Linked DNA regions of Homo sapiens. The protein of the gene in region 1 purifies or fractionates together with the protein of each later gene. This does not show direct contact. Each region holds a gene or a part of one and is shown on either strand. Other genes may lie near its edges. The genes, in order: BEND6 and RBPJ.

The links.
Region 2: the proteins of BEND6 (region 1) and RBPJ purify together in Homo sapiens (pull-down; one study listed by IntAct). This does not show direct contact.

Annotation. Positions count from the first base shown.
Region 1 is NC_000006.12:56,953,628-56,958,141, forward strand, and holds the start of BEND6 (BEN domain-containing protein 6), read left to right. Parts: upstream 1-1,479; 5' UTR 1,480-1,833; intron 1,834-4,514. Other genes in the region: DST (dystonin), read right to left, coding at 158-192, 780-960. UniProt on the Homo sapiens protein: Acts as a corepressor of recombining binding protein suppressor hairless (RBPJ) and inhibits Notch signaling in neural stem cells, thereby opposing their self-renewal and promoting neurogenesis.
Region 2 is NC_000004.12:26,428,699-26,432,218, reverse strand, and holds part of RBPJ (recombining binding protein suppressor of hairless), read right to left. Parts: intron 3,500-3,520; coding exon 3,359-3,499; intron 2,322-3,358; coding exon 2,166-2,321; intron 1,801-2,165; coding exon 1,697-1,800; intron 1,528-1,696; coding exon 1,212-1,527; 3' UTR 1-1,211. UniProt on the Homo sapiens protein: Transcriptional regulator that plays a central role in Notch signaling, a signaling pathway involved in cell-cell communication that regulates a broad spectrum of cell-fate determinations.

The DNA.
Region 1 (4,514 bases):
TATGAAATCACTTAAAAGGAAACATGCCACTTTCGGCTAGGGGACAGCATGTTCGTCATTCAGTGTCCTACTGGTTTCTTAACACGCATATAATTAATATTGGTACTCAGGAAAGAGAACTTCTTCTGACCTTGAGCGTGCGCGCTAAATAAATTACCTCAGAACGAAAGTGGTGCGATCTCAAAACAGCATCTGGGGAGAAAAGAGATAAATGAGACTTCATTTAACTCCTTGTTCTTCACCTACCGAGTGACTCATGACTTACCTGGGAGACCAGGGTTGGGAAAGCACATCGCAGACTCCTGGAATTCGGTGGGACATCCTGGGGGAGGGAGGAGGAGTCCTGGGGCCATCGGTCTCTACGTGATTTCTCCGCGAGAAGTTTGCATGAAAGTTCTGGGGGAGTTGGGGAGCCCCGAAGTTTCCATGCCTTACTTTCTTACCCCTACGCTCCAGCGAAGGATGCGTGAAGGCGAGGCTGGCGCAGCCCCGGACTACGCTCAAATTACCCTTAAGGCTTTAGCAAACTGACTAAAAATTTGAGTTCTTTCCTCCCCTCCCTGCCCTCGGCATCGCCGTGGTTATTCAAACCTGGGAGACTGGAGGGCGGAGGTGACGGCAAAAAGGGCAAGGGGCGTTAAAGAAACGCACTCAGCCTGGGGAGTGGGCAATGATGGGGCTAGGGGCAGCCGAGGAGAAGGGAGCGAGCCGCGCTTCACTCTCCAAATCGGCTTAATTGTTCCTGGTAGCCCGCAGAAACCCGTCGCGGCGTGTCTTACCTCGGCTTCTTGAACGACCCGAGAAGACCGATTTCATCGGATGCCTCCCTTTCTGGAGCTTGCGGTGCCAGCAGCAGAAGAAGACGATGGTGGCGATGGTGCCCAGCAGAAGCAACAAGAGGAAGAGGGCACATTGGATGCTGTAGGGTCTCAGCAAGACGAGGAAAGCCGCGGCGATCATGGTGCGGGCGAGGCGAGGGCGACTCGACGGCGGGGCTGGAGGGCGGCGGCACAGGCACCCGCGCTGGGCGCACGCCGGGACGGCGGGCACGGGTGAGCGCGGCTCAGCGCGTCATGCCTGGCGCTCGCGGCCCCGCGCCCAGCCCAATGGCTGCGCACCCCGCGCCAGCCGCGCTACGCGAGTGATCCAGGGCTGCGGGGAGCGCTTGCCATGACTCAGCAGACAGCGACGAGGCTGCGACTCGGCGGCTGGGATCCTCTCCCCTCCCTCCCCAGGCGCCCCCGCCCCCGTCCGTGCGCAGCCCCCGGGCGCAGCCCCGCCGGGGACGCGGCGAGTGGGGAGGAGCAGCGCCGCCGCCGCGGCCGCCCGGGCCCCGCGCATCGTCCTGCGGCCGCCGCCGACCTCAGCATCCCAGAAGCCGGGCGCACGTGGGTCGGGGCGGGGACGCGGCGCTCAGGCTGCAGCCGCGGCAGCCTGCGGGGGGCGGGAATGGGGCGCCGCGGCGGGGGCTCGGCTGATGACATCACGGCCAGGCTGCGGCAGCGCGGGCGCGCGGACATGGCTGCGGCGGTTTCGGCGGCGTCCGCGGGCTGCACCCGGGCCTGAGAGCCCAGCGCCCTCCCGCGGGGCCGCCCGCCAGTCCGCGCCGTCCGCGGGTGCATTGGCCGGGTGCCTCTAGCTTCCCGGACACCCGGAGCTTCCGCCTATCCAGCCTCCCTCGGCCAAATTGCTGCGGAGCCCGTCGTCAGGGGGCGCCAAGGAGCCAGGGGGAAAACCGAGAGGCGCTGACAGGAGCCTCCCGGCGGTGCTACCCTCCACCTCCCACCTCCCTGCGCCCCGCCCCGAGGTTGGGGCTTTGAAGAATGCAGCCGGGTGAGCTATTGCTTGTGGGGGTTTCCTCGCACTCTGAAGCGCGAGCGCCGGGAAGGGCCTTCCCTGGGAATTGGGATACTCCAGGAACGGGAGGCCCACTCCTCTCCAAGCCTCTCTAAACTAGGAGCGCTCCGGGGTAGTACGCTCTGGTCGGCAGAGGTGAACTCTTCCACCCCAAACTTGGTGCTTATCTCGCAGCTAAGAATTGGGCACTTTCGATCTTCTTGTATCCCTGGGTTTGCCCTAAAACCCTGACTCATTTAGTGCATTTGAAGGGCAAGGCGATTTCAGATTTAGGGACCTGGCAGATGAAGTAAGTTGGTACTTGGCTTATAAACATTTGGGGGAGAAATTTTTTAGGGAGTGTGAGGCAATAGTGATCTCTCACACTTGCAGGCACACTCTGTCTCCCCTTTGTCCCCTCCCCACGTTTCTTCATAACCAGCAAAAAGTATATGGCAGTTGGTGGCCAGGGGATTTAACACTGATGCAATGCCAGCACGGAAGGTATAGCGAGAGCGCTGCAGTGTGCCTTTCTGCGGACGGCCACGGCCACCTGGCCAGGAAGCGGCTGCTGCAGCAGTCATTCTGCGGCATCTTGCGGCCTTGGCGGGCGGTGCTGTGCCGCGTTCTGCTGCCCCCAAGGCAATGCTGGCTTTCCCTGTGTGGGGCTGGATTGTTTGTTTCATTTACTCGCATAAGAAAACTTTAATTATAGTGACAAGGTAACACTTGACTGCATTTGCGGAGTTTCTTATAACAACTGTATTAGCCTCTTTTTTGGAATATTTAATAGACTGAAGAAATTGTGTCATAAAAATTTATAAAAATTTGAAAAGCAGGTAAATAATTGGGAGGAATAAAAGTTTTATTTGCTTGTAGTGATCTCAAAATCAGTGTTGTTTTCCAACTATACAAAACCGTACAGCTCTGCATGAAAGCTTAATCATTGATGTCCTTAAAGCCAGTAACATATTACCGTGTGTAAGTATTAAACCTAAAAAGGCATTGGTTAATGCAGTCTCTTAGTGCCAGATTCATAAGCATGGAAAACAACAGATACGTTTTGTTTACAGCTGGTTTCCTTAAACAAAATAAACATTCGAATTGTTGACATGTTGCATCTCATTCATTCAGTTGTTTTGGATTGAACTCAGAAGGGCCCTTGCTTGGAGACACTGCATAAGGTGGGAATTTTGAATGGCAGCATGTAGGCTGCACTGAATTCCAGGATAGGCTTCATGGGTCTCTAGCACTCAGAGTGGGTGACAGGTAGCACTACATCATGTGCATATGGCTAAAGGTTTCTTGATACCGCAGCCCACTGCAGTGAGAAACTATTCAACAATTATGCAGAGGTTATTGAAGAAAATCCTGAGAGTTTGCAATGTGTGGCACATCAGGAAAGGAAGAATTCTCCACCGCATTGACTCAACAATGGCATGGTGGAGTAATTTTAAACAACAAAACTGAACTAACCGTGTGCAGACATTGGGGGAAATAACTAACAGAATTTTGGAAGGTCATCTTTATGCTTCTCATTGACTGAAATTTGTAAGTGAGCTGAAATAGCCTACGTATCCTTGAACAGAAACATGTCAAAGACACACAGAATAGTATTCAAATTGCCCCAAACGCTATATTTTTTTAACAACAAAAAGCAACTAAATAGCTATTATGGTTTTCTGAGCTATGACTTTAGCACAACTGTTATCATCCTGCGTCTTGCTGCAGCCATTTATAAGTTTCAAGTGCACACAAGAACATCATTTATCTCTCTTGGCAGGCAAATGCTTAACTGCCATGCAATAGGATTATAGATATTTCTTTTTAGATGCATTCATTTCTGTTCTTTCCATCAGTTGTCTTAAAGATACTAATAATAAACAAACCAAATCCTTGAAAGAATTTAGTATTTAGTTCCATTGTTATTTTCTGATTTGTTTGTTGCTAATTTATCATTTTTTCCAAATAACAGCATACATAGTATTAATTGCTTCTGTCTGTGTGTTTATGTGGTGCCTAATGCATTGCGGAATTCAATAAATACTAAATCAGCCAAGCAGTGCTTTTTGGAAGTTAATTTAGTAGAAATTATACCTTGCCTTCCTGGTAGGTTTTTGCTTTAAAAAAAGAATAATTGACATTGTATAAAAGTCACACACAAAAAAAATTGTTAAGTTTGAGGATAGGGATGGAGGGGGAGAGCCATGGCCCAAATCTTTCATACAAAAAAATGAAAATTCATAATGGAAAAGTATGTATAATTTGTTGACTTTTTTTATGAGAGTAAGTTATCATTGTCACCCAAAAGAAGACAAAATAGTTGGGAAAGATAGCTAAGAGAGTTTGATACCACGTATGTAGAAGATGGTCCATTATATAGCCCTTCTTCCCTTTAGATTCTCAACCAAATTGGGAATAGACACAAGGAACCATAAGGAAATTAAAATATTGTGTTAACTCTATTCAAGATAAAGTCAGATTGAAGAACACAGCTTAGCCTCAAAGCCAAAATGGGGCATCTTATTCCTTTTTTCTTACTTGGCATGCTCACCCAGTCCACAGCTGAAAAATGACAGGCCTCCCCAGCATTAGGGCAGGAAGGAACCCAACCTGTTCAAATTCCGGCATAAACACCAAAGGCAAAGGGAAGCCTGACACTTTATAATCCATAAGGC
Region 2 (3,520 bases), on another chromosome or scaffold:
ACATGCTTTTGCGGACATTTTCCTCATTCTACCATTAAGGGCACCATCTACCAACTGGTAGCAAATACTTCCCATATTTTTTGTCACTTGCCAACAAGGCAGAAAATACCCTGCTGAATGAAATCACTGGGAACATTCCAAGTTCAAAATAAAATGTTTAACTTACACATAATACAAGTTATGTACAAGATTAGGAGGGGGGAAAAACCTGAACAAATCCTGGAACACACCTATGTATTTACGTCATGGGAAAAGGGGAGAGAACACTTCAAATATCAACAAGTTCTGCGCCATTAACTCATTAATAGCTAAATGGCCACACCAAATTGCATGTGAATGTTAGAACCTCTCAGATAACCACAATAAGTCCATATTTTTTTTTAAAAAAAGGAAAACACAGAAATAACTACCAACAGTGTCTGAGAAGAGAGACTAAGTTAACATACATTGCATGTATTGCAGGCAAGGCAGAGGCATTTTTTTAAAGCTTTTGCACAGACTTCATATAATCTTAAAAAAAATATGCAGGCCTTTGCAAGATTTGACTTGCTGAAATCCAAACAATTTTGACTCATGAAAAGTCATAAGACTTCAGCTGAAAAAAAAGAAAAAAGTTCCAGCCTTAGACCAAAAAAAAAAAACCTGGAAGAGTATGATAGATTAAACAAGGATGGTCAGGCTTGGAACCTGAATGTATTTTAGAGCAAAAGCTCAAAGGTGGGTGGGGAAGAGAACAACCTATTTGGTAACAAGGTGTACTATAATACCGTGATATAAAAAAAGGTATGGTGAAAATGTACCTTTTACTAAAGCTTATACAATATACAAGTTCCTTGGTCCATAAAAACTATGTTAGATTTGTGTCTTCTAGTTTGTTCAACTTGTATTCCAGCCACATTATTTACTTCTTGCCCATTTAAACAAAACCAAACAAAAACCAACCAACCAACCAACAAAACAGCTGAAAAACTTGATTTCCAATATTTATACATTTTGATTTTTTTTTCTTTTTTTTTTTTTTTTTTTTTTTTTTTACTGTGGCTTCTGCATTTCAAATCAGCACTTGCAGGGAGACAACGGGGTTTTTGAATAGTATCACCTGGTATGAAAAGTTTTCCCAAGAAACCACAAACGATTGTTCATTTTTTCTCCTTTTTTGTTAACTTTTTGCCACACTCAAGTCAGTTTAAGTCCTAGCAAAAAGACGGTAGTTAGGATACCACTGTGGCTGTAGATGATGTGACACTGGTTGAATTTGTGCTGGCGTTTGTGTAACTTCCCTCGCTGTTTGTGTTTGATTCGTTAGGGGGCACCTGGCTTGAATTGGCTCGAAGGATTGCTCCTGCTGCACTGCAATGTGGCCGCGGCCCTGGTTCTGGTGTGTAGGTAAAGGTAAGGCTGGTGGAATAAATGATTCCATCATTTCGGACCAAAGTTACTGGAACCTGGACTGGTTGCCGGACCCATCTCCAACCTTCTCGGAATGCAGAAATGTCTGGGACGACACAGAGCATACTCTCTCCACACCTGAGGAGGAAATAGAAATCACTTAAAAACACTTTAAAAAGCAAAGTACATGTTAAAAATGAGACTTAACACAAGGTTGTTTAATACATTACAATCAGTGCCAGGAAAGAATCTCCTGTACCCACACCCCTCACAACCTCTGGATGATGCAAAAAGTTTTATCAAGTACCTGTACATAGTTTCAGCTTCTACATCCCCAAACCACACTCGTAAATTTGGAGTGAAATTCTGTCCTGTAAGTTCAAGCATTGCTACGTCCCCACCGCCATTCAACTGCAATTCACAGAAAATCACAACACTGAGAAAACTTTTCATTTTTCATTAAAGTACACAAATTAGATTCTCATTCAACTTTCATTTGTTTTTTTTAAAAAAGGGCAATTAAAATGTTTTTTATTACAAAGCTAGCTAAAAACATTTCAAGATAACATACAAGTTTATTTACATTTAAATTTTCTGGCAAGTACGCTCCTCCTAATTTTGTTTTTTTTTCTTTAAATCAACAAATGGTGTATATAAAAATCCCCTAATCAGACGATTGGAGAAAAATCAAAACTCCCATGAAATGAAATGATGCCAGGTCACAGCTGAGAGTAGCTGCAAAGAGCTGAAGGCCAACTTGGACTAGGCGTTCTCACCTGAAGGCTCTCTACCACAGGCACAGGAGTGACTGGGGCAAGGACAGGGCCCATTCCCTCATAAAATGTATACTCTGCCTTATCTGTGCTAATGATTGTCCAGGAAGCGCCATCATTTATCATCTCTTTATTTGGTTCTTTTGGACATGGAGTGGCCTAATAAAGAAAGAAGTTTAGAAACTAAGTTTTATACAGTTTGTATTAATAGGATAAGAAAATTTTACCAAGTAACCCTCAGACAAGAGTTAATAAGAAGATAACTCAGTAAAAACTTATAAACTTTCTAAAGTATGGTGCTTTGCCAATCCCTACATAAACACAAACAGAATGCTAATACAGAAACCCCATAGACAGCAGTTTTTCTTATAATACAAACTATTTCAGTGACATATTAAATAATAATACCTTTCAGAACAACCATTATGAGTATACCAATGCAGGTACAATTTCATTAACAGCAGATCAATATCTGTGATGTAAATGGCTGTTTAAAACTCTTCAAGGACTCCTAAGAAAGACAATGGGACTCCTCATGCTTAGGCAACAGCTAGAAGCTTATGCATGTTCCATGGGAGGGAATCAAGATGGGAAGGCAAAGCCCCTACCCCTACCTTAACACACCTAGACCAGGGACTCAGCATGCCCATCAGTGTGTATGGGCATCTCTCTGCAAAGGAGTTTCACATGAAACCATAACTGTCTTATTAAATCATCTGCCCATGTCATAACCTCATGAAAGCCTTCTGAGTAAATGTAAAACATTAGCTTTCAAAGCATGTCATCATTACTATCTTCGGAAACCACGACATAAATCTGATGAGATTTTGAGCCTTCACCCAGAAAAATGCTTTGTCTATACAATGTTTGCACACAATTTCAGAGGATTCAATGAGCACTGAAAATCTATTTTTGGATATCCTGAGGGGCTCTTTGTTCTTCAATTAAGAACCCTGGAACTAGATGTTAACTGTTTTCTCTGAGAACATTTTCATAATTTTGAGTTCTTCCTTGAGGAAGGATTGCTTGCATGTCTGAGGATTGTGTGTTAAGGATGCTCATACCTGAGATAAATATCTGTGTATAGCTTCATGTATTTGTATATAATTAACAGCAAATGAAAATTTCATATTTTTGCAAGCTGCTAACCTCACAGTTTGTACATTTTAGATTTCACCAGTAATTTAAAAACATACCTGAAATTGAATTATTCTTTCTTGAGAAAGGCACAAATACATTCTTTCTGTATCCTTAAGGTAAAATGCACATTTATGGAGTTGTGACACAGGATCATCTGCATCCAATAATGCGGTCTGCTTATCAACTTTCCTAATTATCTATATTTAACAATTAAGAAA